2 linked regions of the Homo sapiens genome follow. The protein of the gene in region 2 interacts with the protein of the main gene of each other region in a pairwise test. Each region holds a gene or a part of one and is shown on either strand. Other genes may lie near its edges.

What was found.
Region 1: the proteins of NCR3LG1 (region 2) and STX8 interact in binary tests that used the Homo sapiens proteins (3 or more experiments, as listed by UniProt).

Annotation. Positions count from the first base shown.
Region 1 is NC_000017.11:9,548,120-9,551,939, forward strand, and holds part of STX8 (syntaxin-8), read right to left. Parts: intron 1-3,820. UniProt on the Homo sapiens protein: Vesicle trafficking protein that functions in the early secretory pathway, possibly by mediating retrograde transport from cis-Golgi membranes to the ER.
Region 2 is NC_000011.10:17,364,980-17,368,799, reverse strand, and holds part of NCR3LG1 (natural cytotoxicity triggering receptor 3 ligand 1 precursor), read right to left. Parts: intron 1,792-3,820; coding exon 1,453-1,791; intron 1-1,452. UniProt on the Homo sapiens protein: Triggers NCR3-dependent natural killer cell activation.

The sequences.
Region 1 (3,820 bases), on a different chromosome or scaffold from region 2:
TTTGAGACAGTGTCTCCCTCTGTCGCCCAGCCTGGAGTGCAGTGGCATGATCTTGGCTCACTGCAACCTCCAGCTCCAGAGTTTAAGCAATTCTCCTGCCTCAGCCTCCCAAGTAGCTGGGATTACATGCACATGCCACCATGCCCAGCTAATTTTTGTGTTTTCAGTAGAGATGGGGTTTCACCATGTTGTCCAGGCTGGTCTCGAACTCCTGACCTCAAGTGATCCACCCACCTCGGCCTCCCAAAGTGCTGGGATTACAGGCATGAGCCACCATACCCGGCCACCTCATACATTCTTGATAGGAATGCAAACAGGTTCAACCAACTGCTAGACTGCCTTCTAAATACCTAACAAAATATAAAAGGTACAGTCTTTCAACAGACATTTCTTCCTCAGATACAGTCCTACAAGGACTTAGAAGCAAGGATGTCCACTGAACCATTATTTATAATAGCCACATTGGAAATATCAATAAGTAACTAGTGTATGTAAACAATGGAATGTTTTGCAGCCTTAAAAAAAGAATAGGAAAGCTGTTTAGGGGGCTGATAATGATAATTAACATTTTTGAGCACTTACTAAGTGTTTACATGAATTATTTGACATGGAATAATCTACAAAATATAACATTAAACCAAAGGAGGGGAAAAAAACAGCAGCAGCAAGGAGCTAAACAGTGAGTAGTGTGCTCCCACTTTGTTAAAAAAAAATCCTAACTATATATGTGTGTATATACACACAGAAAATTTCTGATATATAAACATTGCCTCTAAGGAAGGACAACTGAGGATTAAGGGTATAAGAGAGACTGATGTTTCACTGAATATTGTTTCCTAATGTTTGTCTCTATCATCTGCTAATTAATAAAAACACAAGCTTCAGAACCATATGTATAATATAATCCCTTTATAGTCAAAGGAATTTTATGTTTACATATGCATATATTTCAAGCCTAGAAAAGTCTGAGATACTAGCTACCAACCATTAACACTTAACTATAAAGAATGAGATGAGACAGGATAGAATAAGGAAGAGAAAGAGGAGTCATTGGTAATAACTAATGAGAAATGTATCAGTAGAAAGTATAATATTTTTTGTAATAAAAACAATAAAGGTACATTTTAAAATCAGCAGATACTAGTTACAGATTTAAACTTACGTCAAGAAGGAGCTAACAAAGAACATCAGTTTCAGAAACAGTAAAACTTGATGACTATGTTTTGTAGATGAGTAACCAAAGAACAGAAACCCACACAGTTGATGCTAGAAGAGGCCTTAAAGATCCCAGTTCTCTTGTTTTGCTGACCAGAAATTAAGGGTGAGCATGGCTAAGTCACTTGCCTGGGTTAACAGCCATGCTAGGTGACAGCTCTTTCAACCCTAGCTCATGGCTTTTCCACCAAACATTCTGCAGACTTCTCCACCTTGAGATGCTGACTTAACTTTGCCACTTCTTAGAATCCTGATAAAAACAATACTGGGAGTACGAATTCAGAATATTCCCAGAGACTCTGTAAATCTGGAAAACAATCCAATTAGGAACATGCTGCCTCTTTGTTTTATATTTTAATCTACGGAGAGAACAGAGCATAAGGAGATGGGGAGGAGGGAGATGGAATGAGAATAAATTGATTAATGAACCATCTGCATAGCACCCTTGCTATGTAAGGGTTGTTATTAGTAAGAGGTCAAAGGATCATCCAGGAAACAATCTATACAGCATGTATGTGGACAGGTGCGTAGCAGTTGGGTAAAGTAGGGTAGTGGGGAAACAGTGTGCCTGAGTGATGCTAAGGACAAGTAGAAAGTAGGACACACAGGCCAAGCGCGGTGGCTCAAGCCTGTAATCCCAGCACTTTGGAAGGCTGAGGCAGGCGGATCATGAGGTCAGGAGTTCGAGACCAGCCTGGACAACACGGTGAAACCCCATCTGTACTAAAAAAATACAAAAATTAGCTGGGTGTGGTGGCACACGCCTGTAGTCCCAGCTACTCAGGAGGCTGAGGCAGGAGAATCGCTGGAACCCGGGAGGCAGAGGTTGCAGTGAGCCAAGATCGTGCCACTGCACTCCAGCCTGGGCAACAAAGTGAGACTCCATCTCAAAAAAAAAAAAAAGTAGTACAGCACACAGTCAGTGGCCAGTGCTGGGGAACCTCCTCTTCCACCAACCTGGTGAATAGCCAAGGAAGAAGATAAGAGAACAGACAGATAAAGAAAAGGAAGAGAAGAGCTAACTATCATAGTACTTTGTCCTTGGCTATGCTGATTGTACATGTAATTATAGCCAATTCATGGATATGTAAGGTTGTAAATAAAACTGGATCCCCTGTAGTCCCAGCTACTCGGGAGGCTAAGGCAGGAGAATGGCGTGAACCCGGGAGGTGGAGCTTGCAGTGAGCCAAGATCGTGCCACTGCACTCGAGCCTGGGTGACACAGCGAGACTCCATCTCAAAAAATAAATAAATAAAAATAAAAATAAAACTGGATCCTGATTTCATATTACTGATACCTACTACCAGCATGCATAAGTCCAGCTTCTCTGCTGTAGCCTGGTGAGCATTTGAACCACAGATGGAGCGGGGTAAATATGCAACTGGATCCACAGGTCACCCAATCCCACTCCAGCTCCTGGATTTTCTCTTATATTTGGTAGAAGGCTTAAGAATTTAGGCTGGGCACAGTCGCTCACACCTGTAATCCCAGCACTTTGGGATGTTGAGGTGGGTGAATCACCTGAGGTCAGGAGTTTGAGACCAGCCTGGCCAACATGGCAAAACCCCATCTCTACCAAAAACACAAAAATTAGCCAGGTGTAGTGGTGCACACCTGTAATCCCAGGTACTTGGGAGGCTGGGGTAGGAGAATCGCTTGAACCTGTGAGGCGGTGGTTGCAGTGAGCTGAGATCGCACCATTGTGCTCCAGACTGGGCAACAAGAGTGAAACTCCGTCTCAAAAAAAAATAGAATTTAGGTAAGCCTTATTTTGTGAAAGAGCTGCTCTGGCGAAGGAAGAAGTTTGCAGATAATTAATTCTCCATGCCAAAAAAGAAGAACTGCAAGGGAACAGTTTAAGGTTCTAGAGGTCAAAAGACTTTTCTGGCTTTCTTTTTTTAAGTCAACAAACTCTAATAAATATTTATGATGTACCAGGCCAAGTCCTTACCTTCCTCAAAGCACTGATCACATTTTGCAAGTACTATTTTAATACCATCATTGTTTGTGAGTTTTGACATAACCATCATGCATGATTAAAAACTCCACAAAGAAAGGATGACCTGTAAATTCTCAATGGTAGCTGAAATCTTTACAATAATGATAAAATAATCAATAGCAGCTAATCCTCAAGGAGGACTTAGTATATGTGAAGCACCCTGTATGCATATAATCTCATCCTTACACAACAATCCTTTACGCCAGGTGGACTTCTAGCATCCCATTCCACAAATGAGGCACAAAGAGGTTAAGTAACTTCCCCAGGGGTGTTGGTAACCACCTTTTATTCAACACCCACCATTATGGGGGGCTAGTCCTGTGAAGAAAAAAGATTTTCTTCAACTTGTACAATAACCTGGCAAAGTATGATTATTCCTACATTACAGATAATGAAACTAAGGTCCAGAAAAGCTGAACTGCTGTTTGGCCTTGGTAAGTGGCAGAGCTGGTCTTCAATCTCAGTTCTGTCTGCTTTCAGAGCCGATGTTGTTCCCACGATACCAATGGCACCTAGACATTCAGGTTTCGTGGACCAGTAATATGTCCAAAAAAACTAGGGGGGGGTGTAACTTATATAGAATTACCAATTATACATTTTGCCAG
Region 2 (3,820 bases):
CTGCTGGGAACTGTGTGGTTGTGTCATCCTCCTTGTCAGAGATTTAACCACCAGCCCTCTGCCACATGTCTCAGCATCTCCATTCCTATCACATACACCTCCATACATCAAACAGTGTATGTAGCACTTGCCAAAAATATGGAAGATGAACACCACGTACCACATAATTGTGCTACCCTCATCTTCAAACCTTGTGTAATACGACACCATCTTCTATCCCTATGTGCATACCACATAGACAACCCCTCGTACCATACATGCAAGGTATATTTCCATTTCATACTCCCCATGGACACACATACCCTCCCTGCATCCCTGCACATGCCACCCACACACACACCTAGTCCTAACTTCCAAGAATAATTCCTCTCTCCCCAGGATCATCCTGGGCCCCATATGGCATTGCCTGACCACATTCCTCAGTGCCCCAGTCACTCCCTGCCTTCCTTACTCTTCTCAGCCCCAGGGAGATGCATTTTACCAGCAGAGCCACCCACACCCAAGACCAGAGCTATGACCAAGGCATATGAGCTCAAAAAGCCCCAGCCCACCAGCAGGAGTGGGTCTGCCGTGAACTGTGTTTTAAGGATCCAGTGTGCCTGGGGAAGGCATTGAGCATTTGCAGAACCACTCTACTGTAGCCCTCCCCATCTTGGGACACAGCCCATAAGACAAGACTACTGGCCGGGTGCTGTGGCTCATACCTGTAATCCCAGCACTTTGGGAGGCTGAGGCGGGCGGATCACCTGAGGTCAGGAGTTCGAGACCAGTCTGACCAACATAGAGAAACCCCATCTTTACTAAAAATACAAAATCAGCCGTGCGTGGTGGTGCATGCCTGTAGTCCCAGCTACTCAGGAGGCTGAGGCAGGAGAATCGCTTGAACACGGGAGGTAGAGGTTGTGGTGAGCTGAGATCACGCCATTACACTCCAGCCTGGGCAACAAGAGCGAAACTCCATCTCAAAAAAAAAAAAAAGACAAGACTACTGAGTCAGCCTCTACCAGCCAACAGTTTACAGTGGACCTAGAGCCTTATTAGAAGGGCTGCTAGCAGGACTGGTCCCTGGCCCCTGATAGCCCCTTATCCTCAGGGAACACGGGTAGGATACTGTCCCCATTCCCCTAGCAACTGGCAGGTTTCCTATTTCAAGCCATATGGACCATCCAAAACCCTGAAGCTGCCATGAGCTGACAAATAGCCCTGCTCCACCTGATGACTACAGTCACCACTCTCCACCTACTAAGACCATCATCTGCCCAGGTGTAGGGACCTAGGCTGGACTGCTGACTCTGGGGCTGAGCTAGGCCAGACTCCAGCTTGGTCCTTCCAGTCCAAGCTTTCTCTGTTTCCCCTTCAGTCCCCAGCTAAGACCCAGGCTGTGTGGGAATAAGTCTTATGTTATAGTCCCTCAAGGCAAGGAAGAGAAGAAATGTCCAGAAAGACCCTTACCAGAAAGACTGTGCCGAGCAGCAGTCAGGGTAAAGTTGCTCCTCAAGGGGGTATGCAAGGACGCATGCCGTACCACACACTGGTAGACAGTCCCAGGGTCTTCCTGAGAGGAGTTCAGCTTCAAGCAGCTAGTGACATTAAATGTGCCATCCATATTCTTGATGGTGGGACCAGTGATGACATCCTCAGAAATCTCTATGGGATGGGGAAACTTCTGGGTCTGCTTCTCCCATGTTATATTAATAGCCTCTGGGTAGAACCCACTTGACTCACACATATATTTGTCTTCATTCTCTTTCATGCCCACTTGATCCAGCAACAATCTGCTGGCTGGGGAAGCTGTCAGGGAAAAAAAATCATACAGAGTTGGGCCCAGCACCCTTTTATCCCCACCACACCTTATGCTAACTGGCTTCTACCATACCCTCACAGCTATGCATCACTGCTCCTGTAGCCAGATAAGACAAAAAACACAGGATGCCTACTCTTTAAAAATGCTGCAACCATGTCCAGCAATGAGCTGGAGATTTACAATACCAGACTGGGCACTCCTTAAGGGTAGGGAGGGATTAGCTTATTATCAGCCTGACATCTGAGCCATGGTAAGCCTTCAGGACATGTGAGTGACTGAATGCAAGTCAGCTTGGGCTAAATATTCTGGGTATGTTGGTGCCAGTGCCAACCGGGTACTGACATGCTGTGACCACAACTCTCACAGCAATTTTGTAAAGCAGAGTTTTCTTAAGCTGTGTTGTGAAACAGACACCTTTCATAATCTGAGGAAAGCCTTGGAACACTGTTGTGGTAGAGACTGCTAATTGCTCTTCAATTTCCATTCTGTGCATTTTTAGCTGGCCATGACATATCCAGATTAAACCTGTATCACCCAACCTCCACTGCAGGTATGTTTGGTCATGCAAACTCAGGGGTCTAGTAGGCCTGGATTTATGCAAAAGTGGCAAGAGCAACTTCTAGGAAGTATCCTTAAACTAAAAGGATGTCTTAAAAGACTGTCTCTTTCTCTCTCTCTCCTTATTTCCTGCAGAATGTTTGGAATACTATGTGATGACTGGAGATGGATAAGCCATTTCCAAACACAAGGTGGACGATACATACTGAAGATGGCAGAGTGACAAGATAAAAGGATCATGGGTCCCAGATGATCACAGAGCTAGCTGCCATATCTGCCCTGGGCTGGCTACATTAGTGTGAAAGAAAAATAAACTGCCATTTCCAAAGCCACTATTGACTTCCAGGTTTCCCTCTCACATGAGAGGTCATCACTCCCACCCTATAATAAGAACAAAAGCTGAACAAATTGAAAATCAACAGCTTTTCTTAGATTCCTCAGAGAATTGAAGTGACAGGGCAAACTGCCACTCAGAAAACTGGAGAAAGAAGGAGATTAAGAAAATTACAGCTAAGATCAAATCACCTCATGCAGAAGCTGCTGGAGTCATAAACCAGTAGAAGTACTTAAGCAGTAACTCCGACAAACTGCTAAAGGATGAGTGTGGACTAGCTTGAGAATAAAAACCTCCTCAGGTCCTGGTCTTAGGGATGCTTACCACACTTTCATGGGTTTTCATCCTCGGGACCCAGTCTTGGGGATGCTATCACACTGTCATGAGTTTTACTTCCAGGAACCCCACCAGATTCTCACAGTAAAGAGCCAAGAAAAATCTCCTCCTCTTTCTGGGGGATGGAAAGAAGTAATCATTTTAAAATATACCTAGATTATTCCCTCCATCTCAAGGGAAGATGTCAGAGCCTTATCTGACCTGAGAGAAGAAAATTAGCCAACTCCAGCTGTCTATAGCCTTTCTGTATTACTTAAGAAGAGAGAAAGAGAAAAGGCTAAGAAACACTTCTGAAGGCCACAGTCCAGAGGCTCAGGCCACTAAAAGAATAAGATTTAATCATAAAAGTATAAACAGATTCTCCTCCAACACTTTACTACCACATCAACAGGGCTCCAGTATAATAACAGAAGATTATAAGTGAGAGAGCTACAAGGCACAGAACCTATTTAAGGAGTTCATAAGGAAACCCAAAGACAATAGGAAAGGAGAGAAAAAAACACTAGAGAAACTGAAGTCTCTGGCACCTATAGCTACAATAAGCATTAAACACAACCCAGCTCCTAGCCAAATTAACATAAGGCCGCATAATAAAAGCCTATTACCTGATACATAATATCTCTCTTTCAACTAAAAAATTACAAGGCTAAAAAATACATAAAAACAAAGCAAACATCAGACCCAGACTCAGGTATGACACAGATTTTAGAATTATCATATAGGGAATTTTAAAAAACTATAATTAAAATGTTAAGAGCACTAACAGAAAGAGCAGATAACATGCACAA